Linked DNA regions of Homo sapiens: region 1 is linked to region 2. The links come from fine-mapping of genetic effects on gene expression. A gene starts in region 2. The other region holds a variant in brackets. All regions are shown on one strand. Distances are from middle to middle. Region 1 overlaps LINC02268 (long intergenic non-protein coding RNA 2268). Region 2 holds the start of LINC02268 (long intergenic non-protein coding RNA 2268).

Region 1 (16,465 bases), 100 kb before region 2:
AGCAGAACGATAAAGAGTCTGAGGAATTTAAAAATCCTATCTGTCTGGAGCCGTGAGGGTGTTATCGGCCAAAGTCTGTAAGAAACAGGAAAACCACATTGGTAAGTCTAACAAAGAGAATTGAGAATTGCTTCATAGGCATGAGACAACAAAAGACTATAACTTCAAGAAACAGGAATCCCTAAGGCTAGGAGTACAAGGAGAAGAGAATAGGGTTACTAGAACCTAGAAGCTTGGAGGAGGGACCAGAGCTGGAACCTAGACCTCGGAGCAAGGGACTCTGGCCAACAGATCCTGATGGTATCTGTGGGGACACAGTGAGGCTGTTTTGGGTTTTGCAGGGAGGCTGGAGCCCACTGCTATTAGGGTGAAGAGCTCCTGCTGGGGTGATCTGCATACTCGGGAAAAACTCAAAGGAGCCTGCAATCACCCCTACCTCGTTGTTGCCAGCAGCATCTCATCCTTATGCTGCTGTTGTAAGATCAGGAGGCTGTTGCCCTAGTCTAGGTGAGAGAAGGCAGTGACCTGGACTGGGGTGATGTGTAGCAGTTATTTAGTAATATAAAATCTGAAGAATTTGTGATGGATTACACTGGAAACGGAAGGAAAGGGAAAGAACAAGGACAACTCATAGATTTCACCGGAGCAAGTAGGTGGGTGCTAAGGCCATGAACCAATACAGGGTTCCAAGTAAGAAAGGAGGGGTTGAAGAACAGAAGTTTAATTTGGGACGCCTATAAGGCATTCAAGCAGGAAGAGGGGCTAGAGCTTGGGGGACATAAGTGATCTAGAAATATAGTTTGGAAAACTTAGGTAGGACAGATAGTAGCTGAAGCCATGGAAATGAGTAATCTAGCCTAGGAGGGTATTTAGGTCACCAAAGAGGGCTTGGACAATGCTGGAGCAAACTTTTAAAGGAAGCTGTACCATACATGAGCTAAAATGCTTCTCTTTGATCATCCACACGTACAGCCGTGAACTGGAGAATTATCACTGAAATATGAGAGACAGCAACATACCAGCAGAAGAAAAGACAATAACCTTATCAGTCGAAATTATTCTGGTTGTTGCTAAGCAATTTAAATTTGATAGAAGCATAAGTTTACTTCTGAATAAAATTACCTGTCAATTTATACCTTTTTATCAACCGCTATCTTCCACCACTGGAAAATAATGCAATTGAATCTGACACTCTCTTTAAGAAAGTCTCCACATGCATAGCCAATTGCATTTTGATATGGAATTGCCCCCCTTTTTAATATTAATACTTGATTTACAACTGTATATTCATAGTTAAAAACTACCATTTTATTAAAGTATATCAAGTTGTTTTATTCTCCATTATTTTGCTTTTCACTTAATCTTTTTAATTCCTGCCCCAAATTAGAGTAATTCACTCCAACCAAAGCCTATTGTAAATGTATGCTGCTGGCTAAGTGTTCTCTTTTCAGTTTAAAGGGGCATCAGTCAGGACTCTCCATTCTTCCCAAAACTGCAGAGTGAAAAGTACAGCTGCTTCTTTCAAGGAAAGTGAAAAAAAAATGAAAAAAACTGAAGCCAAGTGTTTTGCTTTTCTGTTATTTTAAAATTCAAACTCTCAGAAGAGCTTCAATTTCTGTCTTTGATCGCAAAAGCAATTTATAAATAGGAAGAATTACTAAAGAGGTGGGATTTATCCTTTTCTTTTAATCCAGATTTTTCTGACATTTCAACTATTTCTAAAAAAAGATGAGAAGGTAAGATCTCTGCAACAGCTCTGCAAGGGTGAAATAACAGATACAAAGCTTTATAACATTTTTATGTATTGAAGTTTTTAAACTATACTAGAATAAAGTTACAAATTTCAGGTAGTTAGCAAGAAATTTTGCCTGACTTTTGTATTTTTTTCTCCTCAAATCACCTTACAAAGTGTTTTTAAATCGTGACAACCTCCAGAATTTCTCATTTTATTTGTCTTGGGCTCATAAGTCTCTTTCATAGATATTTCAGCAAGGATTGGAAAAGGCAGGGTGAAAAAAAGAGTAAGACTTGCTTCATCATTTTAAAAACATCAGAACTAAAATATATTATGGACATAAATACAAACTTAGAGTTTCCAAAGTGGATACAATTTGTGCAGCTCAATGTTTGATATCTAGATATATTTGTAACATCTCAAAGCACTCTGCCCTGATTTTTTTAGACAGATTTACAGAACCCAGCTTAAGTTAACAGAAGTTGTAAATTATGTCTAAGTGGAATTTATAAACAAAAGTTAAAGTTGAGCATGCAAGGGAATATTGAAAAGTTTGCATAATGCTGTCAACATCTACAGTGCCAATGTTCATCCTTTCTTTTGTTATTAGCTGAACTTTTTTCTGTATACATGGATATATGTCTGAGTAAGTACGTGTGTACAGATGTATGTTTTCAAATGAAACAAAGCTGTGCAGTTATTATCGCAGGGGCCGACTGGTCTCTAGGAGCACGTGCTTCCCCTGGCCTATTAAAATACAGTACCAACATTTCCCTCCTGTAGCATTGTGAGTGTGATCTGACGTGAGCTTGCGTTTCTGGGAAAGCGCCTGGAGAATAGCAATTTAATTTAGAAACTGCTCAGCGTAAGTGTTGGGTAGGGTTTGACGGTACTGCATCAGGTGATGAGATAAATTTTCAGAGATACCACAAAGAAAGGTTGGAAATGTCATCAGAGAGTTTATATTAAGTGTAGTTTTCCTACAAAGAAATTGATTTTAAACACCATTTAAATTTATAATCTGTGTCAGATTTCAGTGTTTTATTGCATTACAGAAGTTAGATATTAGTACCTTGTTTTCAAACTGTTTTGGTACCTAGTATGGGCTTTTTCTTGAATTGCAAACATTGCTATTCTTTTGGATACTATTAAGCTAATAGCCAAAATGGAAATTCGTATGTCATGGAGATGACAAATATGTCTCCTGCTAATTGAAATGCTCTAATGTTGTTAAATAGTATTTTCGGATATGTTTACTCTTCTATAGCCTTTTTCATTCTTATTATACAGTCAGATGTTAAAATATGTGCATATATATATATATATATATATATGCACACATGCATATACACACATAATTTTATAGTTGGATTAGACCTAGAATGTCTTCAAAAAAATTATGAAAAAATTCCTCCTTCTCCACTTATCATCATTATCTAAAAAGCATGCATTCAGCTCAAATTTTATTGAGCACGCACAATGCATCTTAAGTAGTATTATATATTGTCCCTGAAATTAATAGGGGAAAAATATTTCAGTCTAGATGAAAATCGTGTTCATTAGTAACCGATACAATGTTATTTCCAAGGATACTCAACTTTATTTTCCTTTTGATGACACTCCGTGGAGAGAAAAAGTTGTTTAATTCTAAAATTGGACTGTTTCTTCTTAACTGGCCTATCAGCTTGCTTCTCTTCCTGCCTTTTTATTGAATCCATACTTTGTATTTCAGTGGCCCATTAAATTCTTCCTGCTTTTTAGAGTTTCTTTGAAAATATCTTGTGAATACTGCAGGAGAAAAATTGCACTGAGTGTTACAAATCTCCTGTATTCTCTAAACAGGGACAGAAATGTCTTTGGGTTTTGTTTGCTTTGTTTTGTTTTGTTTTTAAAGGAAGGATAGAACATTAACACATGACAACAGTGAGATTACACAGATAAATTTTTGAGTCCTTTTATCTAGTAAACATTCTAATGACCTACTTCAAAGGCAGGCTGGGAAGAAGCCTCCCTGTCCTCCTGCCAGAATGAGAGGCGAAGCTCTTTACCACTCATATGGGAGATATGAGGAGACTTTGAATGGATCATTGCTTTTTATGAGTAGTAATGAGGTGAGAAGTATTCTAGTGTGTGGCACAGGCCTTCATTAAGAAGCGTGAAACAGAATGGCTTATGGTTAAAGGGGGTAATTTGTTCTAACATACTTGCTAAATTGTGTTGTAACCATGCCAGTTAACAGCACTATATTTTCCATAGGATTCCTGAGTGCATTTGTGTGCAATTATTCTTCCCATACAAAATTCAGGGATTTTTCCAATAGCTTGTGTTAACTAGTTGACAATGCTCACTCCTTCAGTGGAAAGTACACGGAGCCCCACCGTTAAAAAGGGGTGAAAGAATCCAGAGATGTTCTCATTCTCTTTCTAAAGCCAAAGGGTTCTTGTAAAATCAAAAATTCACAGAACCCAAAATTAAATGAATACCATTTGTCCAAAAGGTAACATCAGAAGTAATAGGTAGTTTAATAACTACAAAGCTTCAATTTTCAAATATGCATTATAATTAATAGAATCCATAAGAAAGAAAATAAGATTTGGTGGTTTCAAGTCCTTCATTAAAAAAAAAAGACAAGAAAAACTGAAAAGTAAGAGCAATAATTTTGCTACATTTGTGAGGAAATTCTGCTCATAACAGAACTTGAAGTTCTACAACATACCAAGATTGCTTGTTCAGACTCTTACTGGGAACATTGAGCTAAGATTTTGTTCACTGGAAAAATCTTTCTACTTAGAGAAACATAACATGAAAACATAACATGTTTTTTTCACATGACCAACTATCAAATGAGAAAATGTTGTAGGACAGAAACATAAAGGTTTGGACAAGACCCAGAATTTGGGTATGTCATACGGGAAAACTATTTTATAAGTGGCAACTTTTTAAGACACATTATTACACGGGAAATGTTATAACATTAAAATTTGAGGGGAATATCCCTATGAATTTTCTGGAATTTTCTTGAAAGGCAATAACACGAATATGCATTGTTTTATAAAATATTTTGTAACTGATGGCACAATATTATTGTAATAAAAACATTAATTAAATATAATTGATAGACAATCACAGACTGAAAATGGAGACTTAAAATTTAAGCACCAAAAACCTTTACAGTGAAACAGGAAGTATTCATGTTTGTCCACTCTCTGGAATTTTTGAGCCTTTGCTGTGGGGGAGAAGAATTTCCGTTTTGTCACTTTCCATCCATTTCATTATTATTCAGTTTTTGCACATTCGTTATTTGATATTTTGAAAACAATGTTTGCAATCATAGGTAAGTACATGATTCTAGCTTCAAAAATAAATACTGTCAAACTTAATAGAAACCAGGCTGTGGGCCTCCAATAAATGTAATAGGCCCAGCCTCTCCTTTCTACTTCTTTTATTGGGTTTTCAGGAAAGTCTATGAAAGAAATTCTAATTGCAGCTGCTCCTAGCCAATGCTTAGGTTCTCTTCCCCTTAGAGAGGGAAATGGTAGCTCTGGGCTATACGGTGGAATGAGTGGTTTGGTGTTTGTTTTTTGTTTTCAAGCTAATTGAATATGTAGCATAGTAAATAACAAAAATTATATTTACACATTGCCTAATTTTCCTCACTGCGCCACAAGGGGTAAACCAGATACAGCTGTTATTTGAATACAAAATAACATCTTATTCAATGCTAAATTCACTGACCTAGAATGTTGCCCAGAGAGAACAAATCTTTTTATCAATGTCTGAATAGTTATTCTCAGAATGAATTTCACCTTTCCTCAATTTAACACAAATATGAACACTCTGAGTTAATAAGTGACAACTAGGATAGAAAACCTGGAGACTGACATAGGAAGAAATGTACTTTAAAGGGATATTTACCATTCTTTAAGCTTTCTTGTTATTTTTACTTCTTTTTTTTTTAAGAGACAGAGTCTCACTATATTGCCCTGCTGGTCTAGAACTCCTGGCCTCAAAGAATCTCCTCACCTCTCCCTCTTTAAGCTTTCTTTTGCATTGTGTCTTATTTATATCTGACTGGAAAAATTAAGACTTGTGAGACTGATAAAAAGAAGTAATACAAGGATTATATTAATACAGTGTGAAATGAATGTATTTCATTGAAACTGTTCTGAGCTAAGCTGGTCTAATTTTCTTATGACATCAGGGCTTCCCATAACTGGGAATTCTCATAGCTTCATGATATCAAATGCCTGCACTGGCTTGCGTGTAGTCTGGAGGTTTCTCTGAAATTAATTTTTTCAAATCAAGAATAAAACAAATATGAAGAAACAAAAGCATAATAACTATCAGAAAGAAAATATGTATCCACATATGTTGAGACTAAATGCTATGTAATAAAACATGAGTCCTGAGAGAGAAAATAGCTAAAATATTCCATGCCAAGTGTATACTCACACTTGAGAAAAGCTTTTATTGGAAGAGTACTAGTGGTTGCATTTTCATAAGAAAGGTGAAGCCATTTAAAAAAACTCTTGCATGCTCCAAGCCTCTAGCAGGTGTGAAGGTGACAATCCCATTCATCCAGTAGGAACTACCTGGGCAGTTGAAACGATGTGACAGCTCCATTCTCTCTGTTGTGGACATCTCTACTTAGGTGGGATTAAAGCAGTAGAATGCATAGGAATATCTAAAAAAAAAAGTACAGTTTTATTCTGTTTCATCAAAGTGTCTGAAAATTGAGGAGTAGAAAGGAAGAGGGATAAATATACTTGGGGCAACACTGGCAGAAGCCAACATTTTAAAGCAATCATTGTTGATCTTTTGATTCTCCTCTTTTGGTTGTATTAGACATCTTTCCAAATCCTCCTTGTGTGAGTCTCGGAAAGATGCTAAGCAAACTTAAGCATTTCCTTCATGACTTGGCACACTTAAGGTGGTACCCTAGCCTCCCCAAAATTTGTCACTGCCATATTAGTCATTACGGTACTTGAAATTTTACCTCTGTTACATCCATTCAATTACATCTGAAGATACCCACTCTTGATTTATACTATAACCCAAGGCCCAACTCAAGCGACTTCTACACATAAATTGGACTTATACGCTTCTGCCCATCGGAACCCCCTTGTCCTGGCTAGTATCTGTATCACATTTATTTTAGGTGGTTTTATTTAATTTCTCTACTTACTATTAGCTTTAGTTTGTTCCTAGATTGTTTCATGATAAACTCCTGAGGACAAATAACATATATTACAATTTACAATTTTTTTTGTTTCACCAAGAGTAATATACAAACAAAAAGTAATAGAAAAGTTGAAAGACACCCAGCACTTTGGGAGGCCGAGGCAGGTGGATCGCTTGAGCTCAGGAGTTTGAGACCAGCCTGCTCAACATGGTGAAACCCC[G/A]TCTCTATCAAAAATACAAAAAATGTAGCCAGGTGTGGTGGCGCAGGCCTATGGTCCCAGCTACTTGGGAGGCTGAGATGGGAGGATTGCTTGAGCCTGAGAGGAGGATGCTGCAGTGAGCCAAGATTGTGCCACTGCACTCCAACCTGGATGACAGAGTGAGACCCTGTCTCAAAAAAAAAAAAAAGAAGTTGAAAAACAGAAGAAACACACCAGCCTCAATACCTCCTTTCTTATTGTGTATATTAATATCTTTTAAGGAAAGACTCCAACCTTAATGCCTGATTTCTAATGAATCTCATAGTGGGAATTACTATCTCAATAAGAAGAAAAGAAATAAAATTGGCAAACAGCAGAAGTCTTGAGATGAGCATTACTTCATGGTACTTCTTGAGATTTCTCCTATATTACCCAGTCTGCTTGGCATTGTCTAGAAAAGGAGAGAGCAAAAAATGAAAGCAAAAATGAATCTGAAATGTTAGATATTTGGAAATGAATGAGAGACTGGTTTGAAGAAATATAAGAGAACAAAGACATGCTTGCATTTTGAAAGCCGTTTTCCATAAATTCTTCAAGAGCTGAATATGCTAATTTAGCACACTGAACCGGTGATTTGATTTATCCTGTTCTGGATTTCTGTAATATAAAGAAATTATACTACAGTGAATGTCTAAAAATAGCAAAGTGCAACCAATCATGTTCCTTATTTATTGAAAACCACTAAGTGAACGTGACATGAGTGGTTCTATTCATGATATTGAAAGAATTCCTTTTTATACCTCACAGAACAGAAAAGCCTTTTATCCTTTTAATCAGAACAACACCTTTCCAGATTATCTAACAAGTCAGAAAACCCATTTCTTATAGTATGATATGGCATGTTTTAGGTTGCTGGTCAAAACCTCCTTTAATTAAATTGGTCATATATATGAACCCAAAGTATTTAGAATTAAGGTCTCTGTAGTAAGACTAACCCATTTAATTTTCTTATTTATGCTATTCATAACTGAAGGAAATTTAAAGAAACTGCTAAATACTGCCCATTAATTTTCTCCTTGCTCAATTTTGATGTAGAAATAATTTCGCTTTTATTTGTTTACCAAGAAGTACCATATTTAGGAACATTTAGCTAGACGTTTCAAAGCTATAAATAAAATTCTAACTTAATTCTGCAAACTGTTTCGTACCCCAATAACTAGAACCATAGAAAATAACTGGCTGGCTGCCAAAAAGTAAGGCGTGGGATAGAAAGCCTTTCTAGTATTCAAGTTTCTGAAATGAGAAATTTAAATGAATGCTCCTTATGATGTCAAGAAATCTCCATCCTGCTTAGTCCAACTCAAATATTTCCAGTTTTCAAGTTAGTATCTCTGTTTAAAATAAGCAAATGTGGATTGGTCTTCAGTGTTTGTCTGGATACTTTCTGGCAGTGGAGAAACGGGCATGCAAGGGTTCCCAGATTCACCCCACAGCCTCGCATTAGAGCAAAGGTGTTAATTTCCCTTGTAATTTTTCCTTCTCAATAACAGCATGCTCAAACCCAAATATTTCTCAGTATATTATTACAATTTTAAAAAATTGCTGGCTTATCCAATTCTGATCTGAAAAACCTTTCTCTAATTAGTGTCTTTGCAAAACTGAACTCAGGCAAATTTTAATCCCTCATTTACTGATTTTATTTTAATACTATTACTCAGCATATGTTGGCTGCATTAAACCATTACAGTAAAAATTAAAATGAAAGTCATATGATTTATTCCCCTTTAAAAGTGCTCAATTGGTCTAGTAAAAGTCAAGTGCCAAATACCAGATGTCGGATTTAAAAGAAATTCTGAACAAGAAGGAAAAAACCCTCCCATTACTCTCTTAAGATATTTAGTTGAAATTAATGCCATCCCAGAAAAAAATAATATTAACATATGAATACATTAGTCTGAATATATTTGATTTAAGAAAGAAGAGATGCAGGGAATAAAAATAAAAATATATTAATATTTATTGATTTAAACCCCGCTTTTGAAAACTACATTTGTATTGCTGTTACACACAATTTTCAAGCCAACTTGATATTTTACAAAGAAAATTAGAGTGGTTGTTTCAATTTAGAATGCAGAAGGTCAGAATAGGAAGACAAGAAATAGTATAGATACTTATATCAAGTTTTTATTACTTTTCCTCCAAACTTTTGTTTCTCCTCACTATTTATCAGCATAATTTTTAACCAAAATCCACTTCCTGGAAAAATAAACTGATGTGCTGAAGTTAATAGAAAGATATGTTCAAAAGAAATAGCCAAATAAAGATAACTACCTTTTCAGTTCTTATCATACTTTCAAGACAGCTATTTCATATTCAACACTCCTAAAACATAGTTATTCCCCAACTCCAGATCTTTGCCTACATTACTTTTTTCTTTCAAAAATTGCTGTTCTCTTTCCAACAGTTAAGACCTACACCTCAAAGATGGTCTAACTATAGCATTTCTTCCATAATTTTTTAAAAATTATTCCTCCCCCACCCACTCTGCCATAACTACAATGCTGCTATAGTGGTCACTGGCTAGCAATTCCCAAAACACTACTGCCTTTCTCCCTGGATGCGGCAAGATTACAGTCCCCGGCTTTCTTTTTTAGTAAGGTATGGCCATGTGAAAGTAGACTGACCAATGGGCTGTCCGCAGAAGTAGTTATACCCTCTGTATGGGTATTTCCTTTCACTGTGCTGGCTGCATTTGATTGGCAGTATGATCGTGGCGGAAGTCCGTGCTGGAGGTGGTAGTTCTGGGGTTCCTGATGGCTCCATGCGGTAGATCCTGCCCTCCTGTTCACCCCAAACCCCAAACCCAGCCCTCCGTCCTATTGAACTTTACATAGCATAAAATATTATACTGTGTTTATCCACTGAGATTTCTCAGTTCCTCAGCAGCTGACAATATCTTAACTAATGTAAGTAAAATTATGATCTCTCAGTTGACAGAATATACATAATATTTTGTGTTTTTCTTGTCACTGCCTATATTCTCCTTATTTGTTAATGATACCTCTTCTGACAAGTTCCTTAAAGTCAGGAACTCCTCTTTTTTTTCAGCTTTTATTCCTTACAGCCTCTGGTAATAAGTAGATGCCTAATGAATTGCTCTTTATCTGTCAATCTGAGTTTATTATGCTACCCAAAACTAACAGTCTCTTGGTTCATTCATTTATTATTTTATTCATTTATTTATCCAAAATATCTGTTGCATCTTTGCCATTTGTCAGTGCATTAGACACCTTTGGGATATCTTCCCAGCTCACATTAACTCCCCATTCGTAAGGGGTGACCTTCGACAATAGTCTCAGTGCCTAAGCTTGTGGCTGACTTGACCAGAGTACATTATCTCACTCAAGCTGGGCCAGTTAGATCCGGTCCCCAGGCAAGTTGCTAGGAAATAGCTAGTTCATCCTAGCTCATGACTGAAATTGTACTCTACCTACTTGAAAGCATTGGCAGCTATGTAATGCCACATTGACCTAAGAAGCCCAAAAAAGTATAGAGCAAAGAGGAAAAATAAAATAAGCACCCCCAAAACGTAAAACCCTGAAGCCTCTCCATGGCCTGTCTGCAATTATTTCCTTAGACCAGCCTGAATTCTACCACTGTGCTCTATAGCTTAACTATACATTACCTGTTTTGTATAAGCTATGTCAGGATGGCTCCTGTTACTTGCAACTAATAAAATTTTAATTAATAAAACAAGACATTTTGCTTTTCCCAGGGATACAATGATGAACAAGAGATATATAGCTCTTACTCTTATAGTAAAACCAGTAGGTGGCAATTCAGTAACTTTGCAAGGGAAAAAAATGAACTTATTTTTCAACCCTCTCAGATGCTGATTTTCCTTCCTTTTGAAGAAAAAGATTTGGGGGTGATTTTCATTTGTGCTACACATGAAACAAGAGTTTTATTATTCATGATAATATCACTTTCTCCTCTCCTAATGTTTTTTCTCTTGTTATTTTGCGATTCCAAAGTGTAACAAAAATTGTAAATTTAAACATCGGAAAAAGAAGTCAAATACATCTGTGTTGAAAAGAGAAAGGTGGGAAACTTTGAATTGGGGTGATGGTAATGGCGATGTGACAAAGTGGAAAGATATAAAACATTAGTGAGATGAAAGACGCGGAACTTAGGAACTAACTACACACAAGAACAACAGAGGGGAGAACCAAGATGGCTGTGTTTCAAGCATGAGTCACTAGGAAAATGGCGCAAGACCAGGATGCTGGTTAAAGGGAAAAAAATGACACATGGCATATTGCTGCATTTCAGAAAGTCTCCATTCTCAGGGTACATCAAGATATTTTGGAGATCTTTGAAAAGATACAATTGCCCCTCCTTCAGCCCCAGAGATGATGAATCCATTGGTCAGGAGTGATTCTGTGTATTAGTGTTTTTAAAAACCCATGTTGATGGGATTGAGAACAAAATTCATTTGAAGTGTCTGGCTCTTCCACAAAAGTATTTGCTTGTTTACTTTCTAAAAGATGTTTCTTAGTAGACTCTGGGGACTTCAAAAGTGTGGAGGGAGGAAGAGGGCAAGGGTTGCAAAACTTCCTTTGGGTACTATGTTCACTATTTGGGTGATGGGTTCAATGTCAGAAACCTGCATGTGTAGCCCCTGAATCTAAAATTTTAAAAGAAAAATAAATCAATTTAAAACTAAAAATTTTTTTTTATTTAAAATAGTAAAACACTGTACAGAAAACTTGAAAACCATGCCACTTAGTAATATGGAGTTGAAAATTAAGGCAGAAGATAAGAGGAGGAATGAAAAAATGAAAACAAAGCAAAATACCTATTAAGTAATACAGAGGATGGAAAGGAAAGGGTATATTCTGTAAGTCCTGCAGTTTCTTTTCCTTACCTCAGATACTGAAGCTTCTAACAGAAAATCCAGAAGACTCTGGGAAGTAGGTGAGGTTTGACTTCAATTCCTCTTCTTGCTGAATTCCCAATCTTTCCGTGCCTCTCACACCACACTCAGTAATTGCCTGTTGCTTTTACTTACACAGACACTCCTAATCACTGACTTCAGCTTTTCTCTTCATTGCTTTCTGGGATGGAAAAGAAGGAATAGTTAGCTAGGGAATTATCCAAAGCATCGTTAATAATTACCTACAAAACAATTCGCTTCTATAGCTACTGAATGAATGAATAAGTTGCTACATAAGAATCAACTACAATTCTTTCCTTTTTCTCCTCTTCAAAAGGAAAAAAGAGAAGAGGCATTATCTACTATTTATTAAACTGAACTTAAACAAGAGATGAAACCTAACGCAGCTTCTCCTCCCTTACAGAATAGGTAAAACAGATATGAATCAGTGAAGCAGAAACCATGTAATAGAAAAAGTGGAATATAATGAATTTGGATTTGATGATGTTTTACAAGCAGATATCGCAAGTCAAATTTCACAGCAGTAAAAACAACAGAAGTCCACAAAGGATAGATGAAAACATGTCTCTCTCCTGTCTCTCTCCAATCTCTGTGTGTGTGTGAGAGAGTGTGTGCGCGGGCGTGTGCGTGTGTGTGCGCGTGTGTGTGTGCGCGTGCGTGCGTGTGTGTGCGTGCGTGCGTGTGTGTGTGTGGTGTAGGGAGAGGGATAGATTCCTTTTCAAAAAGTGTCCAGAGGGGGAAAAAAAATGCATCATGCCACCTAGTGGCGGAAATTAAGTTGATTCCTTTTAACTCGACAAAGCGACTTTGCCTTTCTTTAGAAAATCAGATGAATTCATTAACATAGTGGAATCTTGATTTGGCAAACTACACAGTAGTTAAAATGTAAATACCAGGTCTATGTTTTAATTTTTCATCCACCAATGGCATTAAGAAATATGATGAACTTTAAAGAGCCCTGAAGTCAGAAGCAGGATATCTTTCCTTCTCTTTCGACCAGGTCACTTAACCACCCTGGAGCTCAGTTTCCTCCATAAAGGGCCAGAATAGATGAACTCTTAGCTCTTCAATTCCATGTTTCAAAGTATGCAATAGACCACATAATCAGGGTACTCTTATCTAATGCAGTTCCTTGTGACAAAGTCAGGCCACCATCTTCACTGATTAAACGCCGGATGACACAACATGCCTTCTACACTTTCAGCCTCATTCCAGTCACATTTTACAGAGTCCGTGCTTCATTGCAAGCCTTTCTTTATTACTGCTTTGCATTATTGGATGTCTGCTGCTGAGAGTCCCTAGATTACAATTCTTAACTTCTGTGAACTGCAGTGGTGCATATTTGTGATGTATTTTTCTAACTTACGTGAATGTCCACAAATTCCCCTTTGAAATCAAGTAAAGTATTCCTCCAAGAGAAAAAGAAATAGTTTGGAATTATGTAGCAATATTTTTCAGACATTGTGAAGTATAATTGCCCCTTTCTCCCACTCTCACTAATAATATACATCCATAATGATATACATCTGTGAATCAGATTTAGAAAGGGCATTAAAAGCAACAATTAATCTGGGCTATCCAGAATACATAATCTCCTACTAACTAATCTGTCCTTGTAACTTAGCGACTAAAGTGTGAACATTTTGTTTTAATTCAAAAAGAAATAAAATTTTCTTAAAATATAAGATTTTCTTTTTTATTTATTTTATTTTATGTATTTATTTATTTACTTTTTGAGATGGAGTCTCACACTGTTGCCTAGGCTGGAGTGCAATGGTGCAGTCTTGGCTCACTTCCACCTCTGCCTCCTGGCTTCAAGTGATTCCCCTGCCTCAGCCTCCCGAGTGGCTGGAATTACAGGTGCCCACCACCACGCCCGGCTAATTTTTTGTATTTTTAGTGGAGACTGGGTTTCACCATGTTGGCCAGGCTGGTCTCGAACTCCTGACCTCGTGATCCACCCACCTCGGCCTCCAAAAGTGCTGGGATTACAGGTGTAAGCCACCGTGCCCAGCCATAATATTTTCATTATTCCAAATGTGATGGAAAACCCATAACACTTAGCTGATGCAAATTGTTTAAAAAGTATCAGATACATAGATGAAAAGTCTTTTTAGTCAGATATTTGACTTTCTCTGCAGCAAAGCCTTGCCCCTCACCCTCAGCCCCAGCCAGCTGAGGGAAGAGTAATTAGCTCTCCAAAGAGAATAAGTGGTTAATGCAAGAACATGTTTATTTGCTCTAAGAAGACTGTCTTAAGGTTATATTCTCTACCCAGATTGCATCTTCACTGTTGACAACACAGTGTGTCACAGATGAAATTATGCTTGGGGTAAAATTAGTATTTCCTTCTCCAAACTGGAGATTAGAAAATAAATGGGTCAAGCATAGGAATGGGATAGTACACACATTAGCATTCTATGAACACACAGAGGGACTGGCAATTAGATTCATGGTAAATATTGCTGACATTCCCCTGATGCAAACTCACAAATATAAGAGAGAGAATTTTCTAGAACATGCTTATCAATGTATTTGTTTCTTTGTTCAACTCCCTTCTTAACATTGTCCAGACATCCTTTAAGCCTCCAACCTCCCCCAAAGACATGCATACAAACATATCCAAACACTTCATTTTTTCACGCAGTACCTTATAACACCTCTATTTAAGCCTTTAAATGATATGTTTACTTGTCTTTCTATCTCACTAGACTGTTAATTACAGCAGGCAGGGACCTTTTCTTTGTTAAACTTAGGACTTACTACTATGACTAGCATATAGTAGGCACTTTAACACCCTTGATTGAACTGAATGTACTGTGTTAATTTAAACAGTGCATTATTAATACTGGGACCAGATGAGTCTATCTTCCTCCTATGTCTCATTGCTAAGGAGCTGTGGATTCTCAATAGTAGAGTGTCACAAAGGGAGCAGCCTCTACTTCATTTGGAACTATTACAAAACATTGCTTTCCTCATGCTTTTTTTAGAGTATGGACAACAAAATTCTTTTCATACTGTTATGAAACACTTCTGATAGCTGGGCAACAGCTAGGAAGTCTCTTCAGTGAGGCCAGAGGCAAGAATCAGAGGATGTTATTCCCTTCATTTCCAGCGTATTATGTGGCAGGACAAAATTTTAAATTTCCTTCAAACACTTCATTCCTTCCCTTCTTCACCCATAGTAAGGAAGAACTTTTAGCATAATGACACACTGAAGTTAAACAATTAGACATGGTAAAATTTAGAGAAAGATGTTTGTTTCATTGTCATTGATATTTTTACTGTTCGAATAGTTCACTCTGGAAAAATCTCCAAAGACAACCTGAGCTTGTTCCTAGGATGAATTTATCTATTCCTATAAATGGAGCCAAGAATAAAAGTCTCAGAGCCTTTGACCTTAGCATGTTACTAAACAGAAGCCAGGACCTTGGAGCAAGGGATGGAGTAGGCAGATGGGTAGAAAAAAACAGGAGAATGGCCCCTTGACTTCTGTTTGAAGTGAACTCTCTGAACTAAAAGGTGCTGTGATGGAAAAACACTTGGCAGCACTTTCCAGATTCTATGCATCTTTATAATAAGCAAACATTAAGATTATTTTTCAGTAAAATCATCTTTCTGATAATGGTCTATATCCACATATCCTTCCAGATGTTGGAGGAAATAATGAAGTGATTACAGTCACTGGATTTCTAGACAAAGCTGAATGAACAGCAATCTTGGGGGGTGGTGTTTATTAAGGCATCAGCAAGTTTAATATGGAAGGAAGGGAGCCATTTCACACTTTTCTATCCAACTAGTAGCTAGCTTGTCTGACATTAGGTTGCTTGTGGATGCATTGCTTTGTCAAATATTTTTAGAACTTTAAAGGAAAGAGCACTTGTTGATTCCTCAATTGGATTGTCCACAGCTTGAAGACAAGCCGAAGACATGGTGATATTTATTGTTTCCTTCTATCTCCTCTGCAATCTTAACCTTCCACTGTCATCCACAGATAGTATTTCTCCCCAAAACAAATTGTACATGTGGATAAACTCTTGAGTTTGTTGTGCACAGAATGATGCTAATACTGGAAGGAGTTTAAAGAGTGCAGCAGGGTGGTAGAAAATATAACTGTCATGATGAAATGTGGAGGTAATTAAGGCAAGTGTAAAGAATTACAATTTTGTGCCTGATGATTTTTAAATAATAATAATAGTCACTATTTACCGAGCATTGATCAGGTGCAAATTACCATGCTAGATCATTTTCATATGTCACCTAATTTCATTCTCACAAACACCCTGTAATATTGAATATTACTAGCCTGGACTGGAGGGACTGACTTGCCCAAGGTCACTCTGTATGTAAGTGGCAGAGCTGGTACTCAAACCTGGATCTGTCAGACCCCAA
Region 2 (16,465 bases):
AAAACTTTCCAGCAAAATCAGTCAATGCATGGAGAAACCTGCCTTTCAGGAGCTGCTAATTCTTTCCCAGGCAACTCCTACTCCCCTAGAGAGGAGGAGGAGAATGAGACCTCAGGTAAGTAAAAGATCCAAGCTCAGTGCTGATGGAGTGAGAAAAATCCCTCTCTCAGTGAGGGACAGAACCTGCTTTTTGTCTTGAAGTCGGCATTGTGTTACTGAAGATGTGGGGGCCAAGATTATTTTCAGGACACTAAAAATCTGAAATTGTTGACTTCATAAGTTGAACAATGACCAACACCAGTTGAGAATGGCCTGGAGTACCCTTCATCTTACCCCCCACCCCAGCAATGAAAATAGCCTCTGTGAGCACAAAGGTGTGGAGAGTGCTATCTGCTATTAAGCACATCAATTACATTGTGGAAAGGCTATGACTTAAACTACACATAATGAAGATACTTCTTAGGTGACACAGAGAAAAGTTTTGACCAGATGATTGGCGTTGTTCCTTACGTTTCTGTTAAAAATCACATCCTCTCAGCTCCCAGCCCAAAGTGAGTCCTAATGTTAACCTGAGACTCCTTCTAGAGTGGAAGCTCTAGGAAAGGGTCTGTGTGTGTGTGTGTGTGTGTGTGTGTATGCGCACATGTGTGTCTTTAAACTGTTGTGTGCATGTGTGTCTTTAAACTGTGTCCCCAGTGTCTAAAACAGTAGGCATCAAGTAAATATTTGTGAATTGAATGACAGAACATTAGAAGCAACACTACCATCCCCACTGCACCCCACCCACCCACCCCGGTGAAAAATGGAATTTCCCAGCCAAGATTAGTGAAAGAAGGAAAAGACAGGGGTTAAAGTGCTCTTTGCCAGAGTTTTGGGAAGAATTGGCCACCTGGTAAAATAAGTACTGACCCAACGACATCTTCGCCTACTCTTTATAATAAAGGGAAGTAAAATCACAGGTAAATAAGATGGGGGCGTTGCCGCAGAGAGTGCTTCTGAGGGTCCTTCTCTGGGATCTTGGAAAGAAGATATCCTGGAACAGGGGGCTCAGTTGGAAGGTGGCATACACATTAGCTTTCTAAAATTAAATCTATAAACACAAAACTGCAGAACTTTCAAACTACTGTGTAAGTAAAGGAAGTCTCTCCACTGAAAGCTCAGCTGGCTGTTAAGTGGGTTTTAGAAACAGCTCTAGTAAGCGAACCTATCTGCGATTTTCGGGTTTCCATTCCTATTCGACTTCCCTCCTCTGGGTCCTTACCGAAAGGGAAGGTCCCAAAGGACCACCAGCGCGCTCTCGGAGGCTCCAGGACTAGACATTGGACTCCCACAGCGCAACACCATAGGGACTCCGGTGTTCGGTTCCCGTGGCCCTCTCCTTGGCTCCCGGTCACCGTCCTCACACCCCCTGGCCCCAGTTACTGACGGAAGCCATGTGCAGCTGCCATAATGTGTATAAAAGAATCTCTCCCTGGCGTTGGTTTCTTCTCTTCTTGGAATGCTTTTGGCAGATCCTCCGCGTTTTCCGGGTCTCTTGGGAGTCTGAACATGCATTTTCCTTTATTTCAGACAGGATTCCGAGTGTTAACTAGATTGTGCCCTCCCCACTACCTATCCTGCCCATCTTCCTTCTCAGCCGTCGGGTGCGGGAGGAACGCCCTTGCCAACCTCAGCCTTTTTGATCTTCCGCGGGCAGAGACTCATCAGAGCCAGGAGGACTGTAACTACCCCCGGGGCGTGTACCGCCGAAGCCTGAAGAGGCTGGTTGGGCCAAAATAGCAGTCGCTGCAGGCACCAGTTTCAGCCCGTCACCTGAGTGCCGGTTCCTGTGGGCGCGCCAGTCTCGCAGGCAGCGCGCCCAAGCTCGCGGATCGCCCTCTCACATTTTTAGAAGCCAAGAAAAGCACTTTTGAAATTCACTCCTTCGACCGTGGGCAGAGGAGCAGGTGGGCGCCGAGCCCTAGCTGAGGGTGGGGGGTCGCGGAGGAGAGGAACTGGAAAATGGGAAATAGGTGTCTGCTGACCTAGAGTTCTTCGGCTTTGATTTTAAGCGGCAGTGAGGCTGGGTGGTTTCGCCCCCCTCATCCCCTCGGTCGCTGGCGCAGATTGATCCTGGAGCTAGTTACGGGTGTTAAACTGGTACGCGGGTGGGGCAATTCATTAGGCAAGAAATGGATTAGTTGTTTATTATCTATAAACATTCCAACCACAGCAACCAATCATAAAACCGCGGAAGGGCCTGTAAAGTAAAGCAGCAGCGAAGCCTCCATGTGGGCAGCTCAGGCTTAGCGATTGTTCCCGGGTGATAAAGGGTCGATTAGGGAAGTAGAGCTAGGAAGGTGGGGGCGGGGGAGCGGGCGATAATTAAGCGAGTCGTCAGGAAATTGCTTTCTAGATGGGGATCATGATGCCTCTAACTTGAACGGGGCAGGAGAAATATTGGGGTGATTTGGAAGACGGTGATAAGGGAAAGCACAAAATAAGGATTGGAGGGCCGCAGTGAGGTCATTAGTGAAGCTGATGCCGGAGATAAAAGCTGTTGATTAATTGAGGGGAGCAATTTAGTCTTTGGTTTCTTGGTAAAATGCTTAGTCACTAACCATGAAAGCGGCCTAATAATATTTTATGGGGGTGGGGAGGAGTTTAAAACTGGCATCTTTCTAGTAGCAGAAATTCACCTTTGAGTATGGCTTTTTAAAATTCCTCTTTGGAATAAAACGTTTTCTAATAAGAGTTAGTCTCAAAAAAAAGTTAATATTAGGTTGGTGCAAAAGTAATTGCGGTTTCTGCCATTACTTTCAAATGACACAAACCGCATTTACTTTTGCACCAACTTAATACTTTTTCTTTTTTAAGTATAAAGCTTTTGTTTTTAACAAAATAACTATTTGGTTTCTTTGGGGTTTCGTAAAACAAACTTTAAACTCATTGCATATTTGACATTTTACTATATTAGAAAGTGATGAAATAATTATGCTGGTTTTCGAATAACTAATTCAAGTATACTGTTTTCACTTTGATTCAGAACCTATTACTCAGAAAACAAGTTAGTGGCAAAGTTCTTAATCGTTTAATAAATATATTGGTTTGGAAATTTATTAGAACTAAGATGTAGAATATAGTAATATACACACGTTAGAGGTTTCCTTTCTCAAATTAAAAAAAAAATGGTAATTTAAGTGTAACCGTCCAAAAACGGGCATGAGGCATAAATGAAAAGTTTGATAAATTATTTTTTAAAACCTTCTTATGGAATTTCTTAGATCAAGATAAAGAGCGTTACCTGCATCCCAGAAATTCCTCTCCTGCAAGATGTTTTTTAAAATCAATTTATTAGATTTTTGTTTTGGGGATGTTTATGTTTAAATAATTGCTCATCAAGTGCTTGGATTTCTTTTCAGGACGAGTATTGTAGATTTTCCTCCCTTGGGGACTACTTGCCTAAAAATAAAATGATTCGAGCATTTTGAAGAAGGAACAAAAACAGCCTCCACATCCTTTTTTTTTTTTTTTTTTTTCCTGCCTCTGGCAGCCCACACTCCTTCCCCCAGCTTTCTTTATTCCATATGAGAGACATAACAAACAAACGATTACATGTTGAAAAACACATCTGAAAACAGAAAGGTCACGTTACTACCGAGTCCTGGGGAACATTAATCTGATGTTTGGAAAACAGTTGACAGTTGAAGGTTGGAGTTTCTCTTTTCAACTCCTGGACAGAGAGAGAGAAAGAGAGACAGAGAGAGAGAGAGAGTTGAATGAAAAAAAGAAGGGAAGAGACCACTTTGTGGCCTTTTCACTTCAGGAATAATTGAGGGACTGCCAAATTTCTAACCCAGATTTAAAAATGCAAACACATTCACAAAGAGGACTAACGATTTGAAATGGCTCAAGTTGGCATTGACTCTAAGTGAGAAGGTGTGTGTGTGTGTGTGTGTGTGTGTGTTGTCTTAAAATAATTAATGTGAATAGCGAAAAGTAATCACGATAACATCAAGCCCTGCATGCCTGAGGGGAGAGTTTGCTGGACAAAAAACAGTCCCTTTACTAATAGCTTGTGAGAAGGTGAAAGTTGATTGCCTGACCACTCGTCTCTCTCCAGCGTTTCTCTAAGTCCGAGCCCCCATCTCTCCCAGTCCTCCCGGCTCAGCGAGGAATTCCTTTTCTTGACTTGTTTAAGTGCTGGTAACCCAGGGCTCAGTGGCTGAAGCAGCTGGGTGTCTAAAACCCCGATATCTGGCTGCCACTGGGGTTCCTCCTATGTGAATTGTGAGGTAGAATGAGGAAGAAGATCTGAAGTACATTCCTGGGACTTTGGAAATTATCATATTGAAAATTGTACTAGTAAATTGCAAAGACAACAAATAATGAGTCCTTCTCTACAGGCATTCTCAGATCCTGGTATCTCTACAACACAGTGGATATTTGAGGCAGGACGATGGATGGGGCCAGGTGTGAGAGCGAGAATCAAGAAACCTAGGATCAAGGAGTTTTACCAGAGCTTTGTGTGACCTCGTGCAATGTCACTTTAACCTGGATAGCGTCAGGTTTCCTCACGCATAAAATAAGATCAGATGATGCCCTCTTGGATTCTTTGACTGCAGGACAATCATTAGGCCATAGTGAACAGATGCGCTTGGTTGCCAGACCGCGCCCTTTGCGGGTCTATCAAAAGGGCAAGCGCATATTCTGGAGCTGTCTCGGAGACTTGGACAGAAAGATTCGAGGCAAATATTCTAGGCTGGGAAATTTCGCGCCGAGCCCCCCCCTCAGTTAGCCTGTCTAAAGGCTGGTGTGGCCAGAGCGAGGCAGAGAGCTCTGCACCTACTGTCGGGGCTGACAATGATTTATGCGCTTGTGACCCACGTAGACCATAAACCTAGTTTGCTAGACGTACAGGGAACTGCGCCGCAGTTAATGCAGAGGACTTATCCTCTGACCTGCAATGTCTCCCCACCTGGTGCTCTACAGCTCCAGAGAGCAGGGATTTCAGCTTTTCCTCCCTCATTGGATCCAATTTCAATCCCCTCGGTTAACTGAAAGTGTGTTGACTTCCACCCAGCCGGCAGGACCCTAAGGGCGCCTGGAGCAGTCTGGTGCGGGTCCTGGCTGCAGCATGCCCAGCAGAGCTCCGGGTGCAGGAGGCTGCAAAGCCACCGCCGCGTCCAGGCCCCTTGAGCGGAGGTGGGAACGATCCGCCTTAGAGTTCAAGGTGAATTGCTGTGACAGTGGCGGGTGGAGGAGGGGAGTTCGAGCCGTTCGCCTCGGGGAAGAATTATCCCCGATCATTTATTTTTAGATCTGAATTCCTCCAGAACCCAGCAGAGGCTGTGGCCAGAGCCCCAGGGCCAGGCAAGCGGCCAAGCTGCGCTCTCGATAAAGGAGCCAGAATGGTTCCATCTGGTTACAAACATATCTTTTTATTAAAAAGCAATCAGATCCTGAAGCGCTTCCCTTGCGGTTTACCGCTCTCCGCAGGCTGCTTCTCCGAAGCCAGCGGTGGTAGCGCCCACTCGGTTGAGCCCACGCCTCCGCCAGGCAGCGCCTCCGCCAGGCAGACCTCCTGCGGGACATTTTGTGGCCAGGGGGGTTCCTGCCCAGGGACCTCTAATAGGGTCGGTGGAAGCTAATTTGAATCTTCCCAGTTCCTTCCCTGTTTATTTCTCAACCCAGCAGTTCAAAAATTCACTTTATAACGGTCCCCTAACAAAAACACGAGTAAGAAAGATAGCAAAGAATTAAGCTGGACAGGCACCCATGTTGCGAAAAAGGTTTTGCTTGGAGACTGCAGGAGAGGGCTATCCCTCTTTACAATTCACGACGTTACTACCAACTTTGCCATTGAGTGGTTCCTCTCCCTGCCCGAATTCCTGGCCATCTTCGTTCCAGAGAGCGATGCAATCATGGCCTTGAAACCGAACGGGGCGTAACGTGCCATTCCTCTCCAGCTCCCGAGCCCCACTCCCACCCTTGCCGTTGAAACTGTGAAAAAGCCGCCAAAGTTTGGGCACCCAGCCTGGCAGTCGGAAGACAGTGAGATAAAGAATGCGATAGTAAGTCCTTAAGTGCTTCCTAGAGATAAGGTCCCGGAATCCTGGAAAAATTCAGTCTGGCCTCCCTACTTCAGCAAGTCGCCTCCTGCTTCTGTCAGCCCCCTCCCCACACACACCTGGAGGGAGAGGCGGTGGCCACAGGGGTAGCTGGGGCAGACCCTCCGCTCCTCCACTCCCGGTGGCCAGGGGTCCTAAGGCCACGCGGCTGGCTTTCTTCTCTGGGAATCAGGAGATGATAATGAGAAAATCCCTCAACCATTGGCGCGACGAAACTCAAAAATGGACAGCCCTCCCTTATTCATAAATATTACTTCAAATATGTTAAAGACGTTAAGTAATTTTTAGTCTCTTTAGAATTTCCAACGCTATAGTTTATTATGACAGATAAGGTTTGATTTGTGCTAGTCGCGTGCCAGGACACTGAAGGTGAAAAGAAGGAAAACAAGAAAGAGTTTCTAAAAGAATACACGTAACATTTAAGATAACTACATACAAAGTGCTCACTTAATTTCTCTTAAAACAGTTACAATGAATAAATTACATTTCCAACTTAATAAAATTTAATTCTCTTAGTCGTTTGTACAATTGATGGCCTTTGGTTATAAAATTTTACTTTTTGGAGAAATATTGCCCCTCTGTCAAATTATAGCACATGACAAATAATATAGCAAATAATAGGTTTGACTTTTAAACATACACAGTTATTTGAAACAAAATGTTTTTAACTTTCTGGCAGCATAGGCAAAACAGTAAAAGCACAGTTATATTTTAGGAATTATCTTAATACATTCCCCTCTATGATATCAGAACTTACTCCTGATTGAACCAAGGAAGAACAGCTAACTCTTCGGATAAAACAATTTTTTCTCCTTCATTCCCAGGCATGGTTTGGAAAGCAATAAATGCATATTTGCAAGAAGTCATGAAAAATCAAGATTAAAAATACTGTATAATCTTCCTGGTAAAACATATATACATTTTATATCTGACCATATGAAACTGTCATCTATAAGTATTACATTTTAATGAAGCATAACTCCTCATGATATATTTATTTCATAACAAATGGCAAAGGTAATATTACTTATCTTCAAGTATTTTTTCTTTTAAAAGCTCCTCCCACCAAATGAGAGACCTCTATTTAAACAGCAACTTCTATTGAAATATATGATCTGAAGGAATTCGCTATTTGAAAGTCTTTTGACAGCTTTACAGATTATATCTGTTGAGTTTTTTCTCTCTCTCTTATTTCCACAATTTACATGTGTGAATATATGGGTAACCCTCACTAACTTTTCAACATCAGTCACGCACATTAGGTAGAAAAAATTAATTTTGAAACTATTCTTTGTTTTTAAAATGATATATGTCATTACTGTTAGGTGAGTAAGCTAAGTGTGTTTTTTTGGAAGGGGAAGGTAGGTTAATCACAATGATAGAGCAAATATAAATAGTATTATGTTGTTGGTGTTAAAAGGCAAAACCTCTTAGTCTGTGAAGATCACCTACTTACCTTCTCTCCATTAAAAAAAGAGTTGAACTTTTTGGCTCCCTGTATAATGTGTGTTCTCCATAGATTTTATACTAAATATTAATATTAAGATTATAGAGCTAACCTTTTTCTAATGTCAAAGAGCTTTTGAACAATACAGGCACAAGAGAGAAAAGACACCTACCTCATACATTCACATCCCAAATTTCCTATCTCCAATGCAACAGGAATAATCTTTTTATTCCATTAAAATGGTCACTAACCTTATAATAATAAAGGCATGTTTTAATCTCTTACCTGAAGGAGTCTTATCAATGTAACAAGAACTGAAATTGTGACTGGTCCTTGTTGTCGTTTACAGTACAGAGATCTGTACTGTATTGCCTTTGTGGAGGGCTGAAGTAACAACATATGACTACTGCCTCCTGAGACCCTTATGAAAATAAGATATATAGCTGGTTCAAATAAATGTTTTAGGCCTTGACCCAGGAATATAATTGAGAAAAACAAATTATTTCACATACACTAAAACATAATTAAAATGTTATTCTAAGCTTTGCTTTTGTGTGTTATGTTGTATGTGCATACTAATGTTATCCTCAATCATAAAGCTATGTAAGAAATGATTGTACTTTTAAAAATGTTACGTAAACATCTTTTTTCCTAAAAGTGGCAAAAATTACCTTAGAAAGCAGTTACAGTGCAACTTTCACTTTTAAAGGTTTTCAAGATTGAATATTTTAATTCATAACATATTTCTCATTGTTAAAATTCTTTGGCTTCCTCATATCTGGCATTTAAAATTTTTCAGTTGTTTTGTAGACTATGTATGTAAGGTTGCATTTTTCACTGTCAACATAAAGTTATTGTTTGCTTTGGATTTAATATGTATTTGGATATGTATGCATATTTGTTTAAAACTATGAACTCTGGGGAGGGTTTTAATTCTATGCAACATAAGTCAGTTTTATATAATGAATATATACAACTTCAGCTAATAAAAAGTAAGATTTTAATCTTGACAATATATTCCTAAAATGCATTAAGATATTGTCAATCTAAAATGAGCTTGATTTGAGAACAAAAAGAATAAGTTCTTTTAATGAACTAGTGGTATATTGTTATATGTATATATGTTTTGCTGATTTTAGCAAGAAAATGGAAAATAATCCATAAGAAAATGGAAAATAATCCTCCTGCAAAAGAAACCTGAAGTGGATTACCTAATAAATTGTTTTCAGCCTGAATTTTAAGGTATCACGACATAGTCATGTTTGTTTTTTAAAATATCATTTTCAAAAATCAAAGACATTAATGGTATTCTCTATTTCAAAACTATGATCATTATTCTGCTTTTTGCCACCAATATTTATGCTAGGAGAAACATGTTTAAGAGTCATCAACACCTTGGGCTCATTGACCATACGAATGAGTCACATGGTCAAAATGAATAAAATGTTATTTAGAAAAAGGAAAAATATATATATATATTTATACATATGCATAGGTATTCTTTTTAAATGAATAAAAGGGCTTCATAATTTGGGACAGCAGAAAAAGGGAGTAGCAAGCATCACAGCCCAAAGCAAGAATGAAAGTAGCAATGGTGTCTAGACAAAGGAGCAAGGATATTTGCTTTTACAGTTAGTTTTATTTGGGATATCTTGGAAGAAAGAAGGGTAGGCTCTCAATGGCTAAATTAAATTATCTGGATGATTTGTCTACACAGAGCAATAATGACATCTCTTTTTGTTGTTGTTTGCTTTTGTTTTGTTTTTTGTTTGTTTGTTTGGAGACAGAGTCTCACTCTGTTGACCAGACTGGAGTTGCCCGGGCTGGAGTGCAGTGGCATGATCTCGGCTCACTGCAGCCTCCACTTCACGGATTCAAGAGATTCTCCTGCCTCAGCCTTCTGAGTAGCTGGGATTAAAGGTGCCCACCACCACACCAGCTAATTTTGGTGTTTCTAGTAGAGACAGGGGTTTCACCATTTTGGCCAGGCTGGTCTTGAACTCCTGACTTCAAGTGATCCGCCTGCCTTGGCCTCCCAAAATGCAGAGATTAGAGGCCTGAGCCACCGCGCCCGGCTCCTCTTCCTGATGTGCTATGTAGATACATCTCTAACAGGAAACTATAGATCCCCCAGCATTTGCTTTTGAAATAATTCAAAACTTTCATTTCAGTTAGGAAACACATTTTGCCAACATCATATTGTCTATCTTTTCCATTACATTCCCCATAACAATAGTTTTTAAATGAAGTATGCCTCAACTTAATGTTTATTATTAATGTAACAACTATTTGTTGACTGTTTACTACAATTCTCGGAGCACCAATGACTAAAACAAACAAAATAACCTTCCCTTGGTAGAGTTGGGGAACTTTTCCGCAGAGCATGGAAATTAAGGGGAAAAATCCTGTAGGTTTCAGGTTATCCACTAGGTGGCAAGGTGTGCAAAAGTGACTGCCTATTGCAGAGCAAAATTTGGTACAAAGAATGTGGCTTTCTATGAAAATTTCCACCATATTTTGTTTGTAATGATATTTGTAAAGTCTCTTTTTGAGCTCTACAGTTAATAGCTAACGGTCAGGATTCACTCTGTGTTCAGTTTTACAAAGCATTCTTTGCTTGGGGCTCATCTCTTCAAGAAGAGAGCCAGCTGTGTTCCCTAGTGGCCCATCTACAAGATCCCCCAGCTTACCTTAAGAGATTTTTCTCTTTTCCTCCCTATATTTCTCTGTGCCCCCAGATGTGTGGATTATGAAATCTGCCTAAGGGTCTGAACATCTGGCTTTGCAGAAGGACCACAAAGCGTTGGTTCAATTTTATTCAAATTTACCTAGATCAATTTAGATATCACACTTTGATTTGCTGATGTGGGGGGTTAGTGTCCAAAACACTAACATCTTACAATAACATCCATGCTGATAAGTAGTCAAACACATATGCCCATATGTACATACATGCAATTATGAATATATTTTATTTTCAGAGACTACTTAAGTGAGATCTCACATTTATAGCAAAGAAATAAAATTATTTCATTTAATCAGACCTCTTCTTTGGAAAAGAATTGTGATATTTTTCTCAGTGAAATTGGGCCTTTATGCATGTATTTTGTTTTCAGAGACCATTTAAGTGAGATCTCACATTTATAGCAAAGAAACACAATTACTTCATTTAATCACACCTTTTCTTTGGTAAAGAATTGTGTTCTTTCTCTCAATGAAATTGGATCTTTATGCATCTTTAGATCTCCCAAAGAGATTAAAGAAAAAAAATCTTTCCGTCTTTGAAAAATGGTTTATACAGGATGTAGAACACTTGTAGGGTTGTTTAAATATAGAGTTTGAGATTTTTCTGTGCTTGTCTAACATATGAAATCTGTATCTTTGTTTTCAGATGAGTAGCCTCTAATCCAAAAGTGAGATATTAGCTAGGCATGGTGGCACTCACCAGTAGTCCCAGCTACTTGAGAGGCCAAGGTAGGAGGACTGCTTGAGCCCTGGAGGTCAAGAGCAGCCTGGGAAGCATAGCAAGACCCCACTCTCTAAAAATACATAAATAAAGTGAGATTTTAGAGATAAATATTTTTCTTTGTGAAAATGTTCTCCCCAACAAGACTGTGTGTCTAAGGACATAATTATTAGTAAAACATTAACATTTTAATGTTTATAGCTGAAATTTTTCTCCTTAGATATTCACTTTGGCTGTGATAATTCTCAACACATTCAAAATGTGTGCCTCATAGCAGAGTTTATACATTTGGCCATGAGTTTTGATAACAGCTGTGAATAAGCAAAGGATATATTATTTTATACATAAATTGGAAATATGGGTTGTTTCTGATAGATGTGGTTGTTTTCCATTTATCAGAGTTGTAGGGAAGCTATTTTTCGAAGTTAGGGAAAAACTTTTAAGTCAGGCTCAATTCCTCTCAATACACAATCAAGCACCAATTTATATCTGTTCTGCTTAGCTCAGGGCCTTCCACATAGTTCAATTAACAAATTTACTGATTGATAACTACAATTTGTTTCATGGAGAAGTCATTCATACAAAATGTATTTATAGATCATAATGTAATCAAGCCAAGGTATTACTAGTAAAAAAAAAATCCATTCTTAATACAATTTTAAATGTAAAGGGATTTTACCTTCAGTTAGTTTAAACAAAGGAATAAATCTCACCCACCCTCCCCCCAACCCTCACTGCAATAATTCTGCTTTGGGTTTCAGGACCTAGAAATAGAGCTTTTAGTGTTTTTATTTTTAATTCCCATTACAAAATATGTCAACTTTTTAATGACTTTATTATGATGAAATTCTATTCTGGATTACTATCATTTTAGGCTTTTCTCATAGACTTACTGTCTTTTACGAGAATTTTACTTTTTAGTTCACAATAGTATGACAAGCAGAGCAGAACTCAATAAAATTTTTTAAAACCACAAATTTCTCAATAACTCCTCAATACATCAAAGTTTTCATGTAACCATATTTTCTACTCAAAATTTTCAATATACATTTTCTTCATAATTATAATTATTGTAAACATTTTATTTAGGGTTTTTACTTCATATGTTATTATAAACAGTTATCTTATCCTTAACTAGTTTTTATATTTATCTAGATTAATGGCTAAACTCCCTTGCATTTCTTTCTAAGCATTATCCTTCCCAGTGTTCCTCATTTCAGTAAAGGGCACTAGCAGCTGTCCGGTTTTTAAAGCCAAAAATCCAGGAGTTCTCAGGCCCTCCCTTCTCCTCCCCTCCCCTCCCCTCCCCTCCCCTCCCCTCCCCTCCCCTCCCCTCCCTTCCCCTCTCCTCCCCTCCCCTCTCCTCCCCTCTCCTCCCCTCTCCTCCCCTCTCCTCCCCTCCCCTCCCCTCTCCTCTTTTCTCCCCTCCCCTCCTCTCCCCTCCTCTCTCCTCTTTTCTCCCCTCCCCTCCCCTCTTCTCCCCTCCCCTCCCCTCCCGTCTCCTCCCCTCTTTTCTCTCTCTCTCTCTCTCTCTCTCTCGCGATATATATATATATATTTATTTTTGAGACACAGTCTTCCTTTGTCGCCCAGGCTGGGGTGCAGTAGTGTGATCTCAGCTCACTGCACCCTCAATCTCCCGGGCTCAAGCAATCCTCCCGCCTCAACCTCCCGACTAGCTGGGACCACAGGTGTGCACTACCACAACCAGCTCATTTTTATATTTTTATTTTTTGTAGAGATGGGGGTCTCACTATGTTGCCCAGCCTGGTCTTGAACTCCTGGGCTCAAGCAATTCTCCCACCTCGGCCTCCCAAAGGCCTGGGATTACAGGCATGAGCCATGGCACCATCTCAGTTCTCTGTATCTCCACTGCCGCCACCCAGTTCTAAGCCTTCATGACCTTCCATCTGAACAGCCTCAGATGCCTGCTAACTGGACTCCGGGCTTTCACTCTTGCTCCAGCCTATTACCCGCTCTTCACGCAGCAGTCAGGAATGATTGTTTTAAAAACATACATCACATCACATGACTCCTCTTTTAAAATCTTTCTGTAATGTTTTATTGCCCTTGAAATAGAATTCAGATTCTTTGCTACTACCTACCAGGCCCTGCCAGATACGGCTTCTGCCTTTTTTTTTTTTTTTCCAAACCCATCTCCCTCTGTGAGTTCCTTCCTTCCTCACATATTTCCTGACCTTTATCATGTTTTAGTGGCTTTTTTAGGTGCTGGGAATGGAGAAGTGAATATAACAGTGTCTTCTTTCATGGCGCTTACATTTTATGGTGCATGGACCAATGTTGTTTCTGCCTCCCGGGCTCAGCCTTTACTGCTCCTCTGCTTTGGAAAGCACTTATCCTCTCAGGGCTGCAAAGACAGAGCGAGATTAATCAGTAGATCCAGGACTCGCTAGCCTGTGACCTCTATAAATGGTCATGTTTATCTCCTCAGAGCATACTTCTGCAGGCTAAATAAATTAAATAATACAAAGCCCTTAGCACAATAAATGTAAGATAAATATGATCTATAATTTGGATTTTTATTATCAGTTTTGCAAAGAAATATTTCTACAACTTTTTCAGAGATTTCTGAGACTTGCTTCCTTATGGCATTGACCAAACTGCAAAATGAGCTCCCCTGCAGGAATTTTGAGCTACAAAATACATTCCCAAGAAGCTGGAAAAGTATTTCCTCCCAGAGCCAGGGCTCTGCTGTGCAGCATAATACAAATATCCCAAGCTTAACGCCATGGTTTTTATCATGGATGCTGATTAGAACATAATTTAGTGATGTTTTTGATTGGAAACAAATTTTGACCCCATGGTGCGTTACATTCAAAATGTCTCCATTGCAAAGTGTTTAAACTTTTATTATTGCATTTATCACATTGTATTATAGTCGTGGGTAGGGTAACCACACATCCTAAGTTTATGCCTTTTGTCCTGAAGTACCATCTGGTTTAGCATTTTAGCACTCTCAAAAGTGTCCTGGTTTAGACAATAAACTCTATAGTCCCCCAATTATGAGGCAGGTGCCTGGCTGCAGAGGCTGAGGAGCACTGGGGTGGTCCTAAGCTAAGTGTGGGTCTGTTTGAGAAATTGGTGATGCTGGTGACCCAGAGATGTCTGCTTGTTTTGCATGCAGAGAAGGGCATAGAGGAGAAACTTAGGCACCGAGGGCCAAGGGCAGAATCAGTGGAGGAGAGTAAGGAGGGTCTCCAAGACTACACCTAAACTCTAGAAGAAGAGGGCTCCTCTTCTCATTTCTGCTAAGAACACAACACATTCTAAGGCAGTGAGGATGGAAGAGAACAGCTTCGTTTTGGTTCTTTTGAGGCTTGTAGTTGTATTATAAGACAGCAAGGAATCAAGGGCAATGAGACAAAACTTAGAAGATGCCTTGCAATCCTAAACCTCAGTGAAGTGTGAAAACAACTAAACCTGGGTTTCTGAGGACTAGAAGAAACATTTGGGGTTGGCTGAGGATTGGGTTTGCATGCATCTTAATCACCAGAGTAAGATATAATTTGGTTTGGTTTCATGCTAAAGTTTTAGTTTTCGGTACTTCGAATTAAAGGGTCAGATACAGTCTGTCAGCTAAAAAAGAATATTTGTTAAGTAGAATACTTCATGTCCTGGCAGGAGGAAACCTTTCTGAACAGAGTGCACCTTGGTTATTTAGTTTAAAATTTTTATTCTGGAAGATTGTTTAAATTGAGACAGGATGGTAACTTTTTATATACAAGGAATGTTATTAAAGTACTTTGAGATTTTTGGATGCTTGATTTGAGAGCACTTGTCAAAATCAATTTGTTCATACAACACGTATTTAGATCCTACAGCTTGCCATGCACTGTGCTAAGTGCTCATGACAATATCACAATGCATATCAACTCCTCTAGTTTCTTCTGCTATGTCTATGCTGAGGACTCTCCCAGAACAGTATCTTAGCCTTTATCTCCCATCTTAACACTATACAACTAACAGCTGAATACCTTCACATAATTGTCTTATGAATACTTCAAATTGACCACAGTGAACTCATTCTCACCTGCTTACATCCTCCCCATCATCACTACCTTCCTCCCAACCCAAGAAGACGTGTCCTTCACTGACATTCCCTCCATCTAGAATAGAACTCCTTCTTCAGAGTATTTGGAGTAGTTTTTAACTTCTTCATCTTCACGTCCAACAGCCAGTAGTACACCAAAATGGTTTACTTCAAAAGTTTATCTCAAATCTTGCTTCTATCACTTCTACTCCCAATGACAGTACTAAAGTTCAGATTTCCATTGTATTTCACTTGCGTAATTATAGTAGCCTCTTCACTAATTTCCTTAGACTACAGTCTATTGCATTTCTACTTCATGTATTAGAGAGATCTTTCTGAAACACAGATCAGAAATGATACTTTTCTTCTTGAAAAATATCCAATTGCCTACACAATAAAGTACTGACTCTCTATTTTAGCTTACTGTCTGTTCAAACTATATTTTCCAGGCTTTTCTTCCACATCACTCCCACTTTACCCTCCAACTCTAGCAGATTATTCACTATTTCATGACCCTTATATGCTTTTGGTTCCATGCCTTTGATCATGTTATTAACTCAGTCGGTAATATACCTACTGAAATAGCATTCATTCTTTCACACTAAGCCAGTTGGTATTAATTGCTTACTCTACTCTTTCTAAAATACTAGTACTTTTTTAAAAAGATCTTTTAACATCGTTTCTTCTGCTATTCATTAAGGTTAGTAATAAACAAAAGGCACATGGGAGTCAGTGTTTGTCTTGGTCCCTATAAATGGTCATGTGATCCTCCAAAAGTCACGTAACTCCTCCAGACCTCTGAAAAATTGTGGTGATACTATATATGAAGTATTACAGAACTGTATGTGATGTATTATGGTTGCCTTCCTCCCACTGAAGTCCTTAATAATGAGGGGTAGTTTTCTTCATTTTTGTCTCTTTCACAACACCTAGTAAGTTCCTTTCTTGCACAACATAAGCCATCTTTAAATGCTTATTTAAATATTAAAAATTAAAATGTCACTGTAATATAAAATAATGCTCTAAATTTATCGTTGTATCATAGGTACTTAGGGGTTATGGTAAATTTGAACTTGAATATGTGAGAAATGATATTTCCCTTAAACAGTGAGAAAAGCACAAAGTACATCAGAATGATGTTGGAACAGCAGGTCTTGCCTGTAACGTGATTGGCTACATTAAGACTTTAATAAATTGATGTAATAATAAGTGGAAGTATTAGAAACATTCTGAGTCAAAGAAAGGGGAAACTGATGAAAGAAAGGGCAAAACACCATGCTACTTAGTATAAAATTAAAAGCAATATGGGAGCAATTCTTGGCAGTTTCTAGTAGAAAGTGATTTCAGCTATCAAATTTTAAATGTGCAAAATGATCTCTATTGAGGAGTGC

Evidence for each region. PIP is the estimated chance that this variant, and not a neighbour inherited with it, causes the effect.
Region 1: its variant is the best candidate, but not a certain one, in a credible set for the expression of LINC02268 in gastroesophageal junction (GTEx, PIP 0.55).

Annotation. Positions count from the first base shown.
Region 1 is chr4:174,107,854-174,124,318 of GRCh38, forward strand. It overlaps LINC02268 (long intergenic non-protein coding RNA 2268), which reads right to left. Exons shown (of 5, transcript NR_125896.1): 2 at 12,044-12,233. Among named protein-coding and RNA genes, the nearest start is that of LINC02268, 100 kb to the right of the region's middle. The variant G/A (reference allele first, on the strand shown) is at 7,138.
Region 2 is chr4:174,212,472-174,228,936 of GRCh38, forward strand. It overlaps LINC02268 (long intergenic non-protein coding RNA 2268), which reads right to left and starts at 7,927. Exons shown (of 5, transcript NR_125896.1): 1 at 7,843-7,927. RefSeq lists enhancers at 1,835-1,894, 2,005-2,665.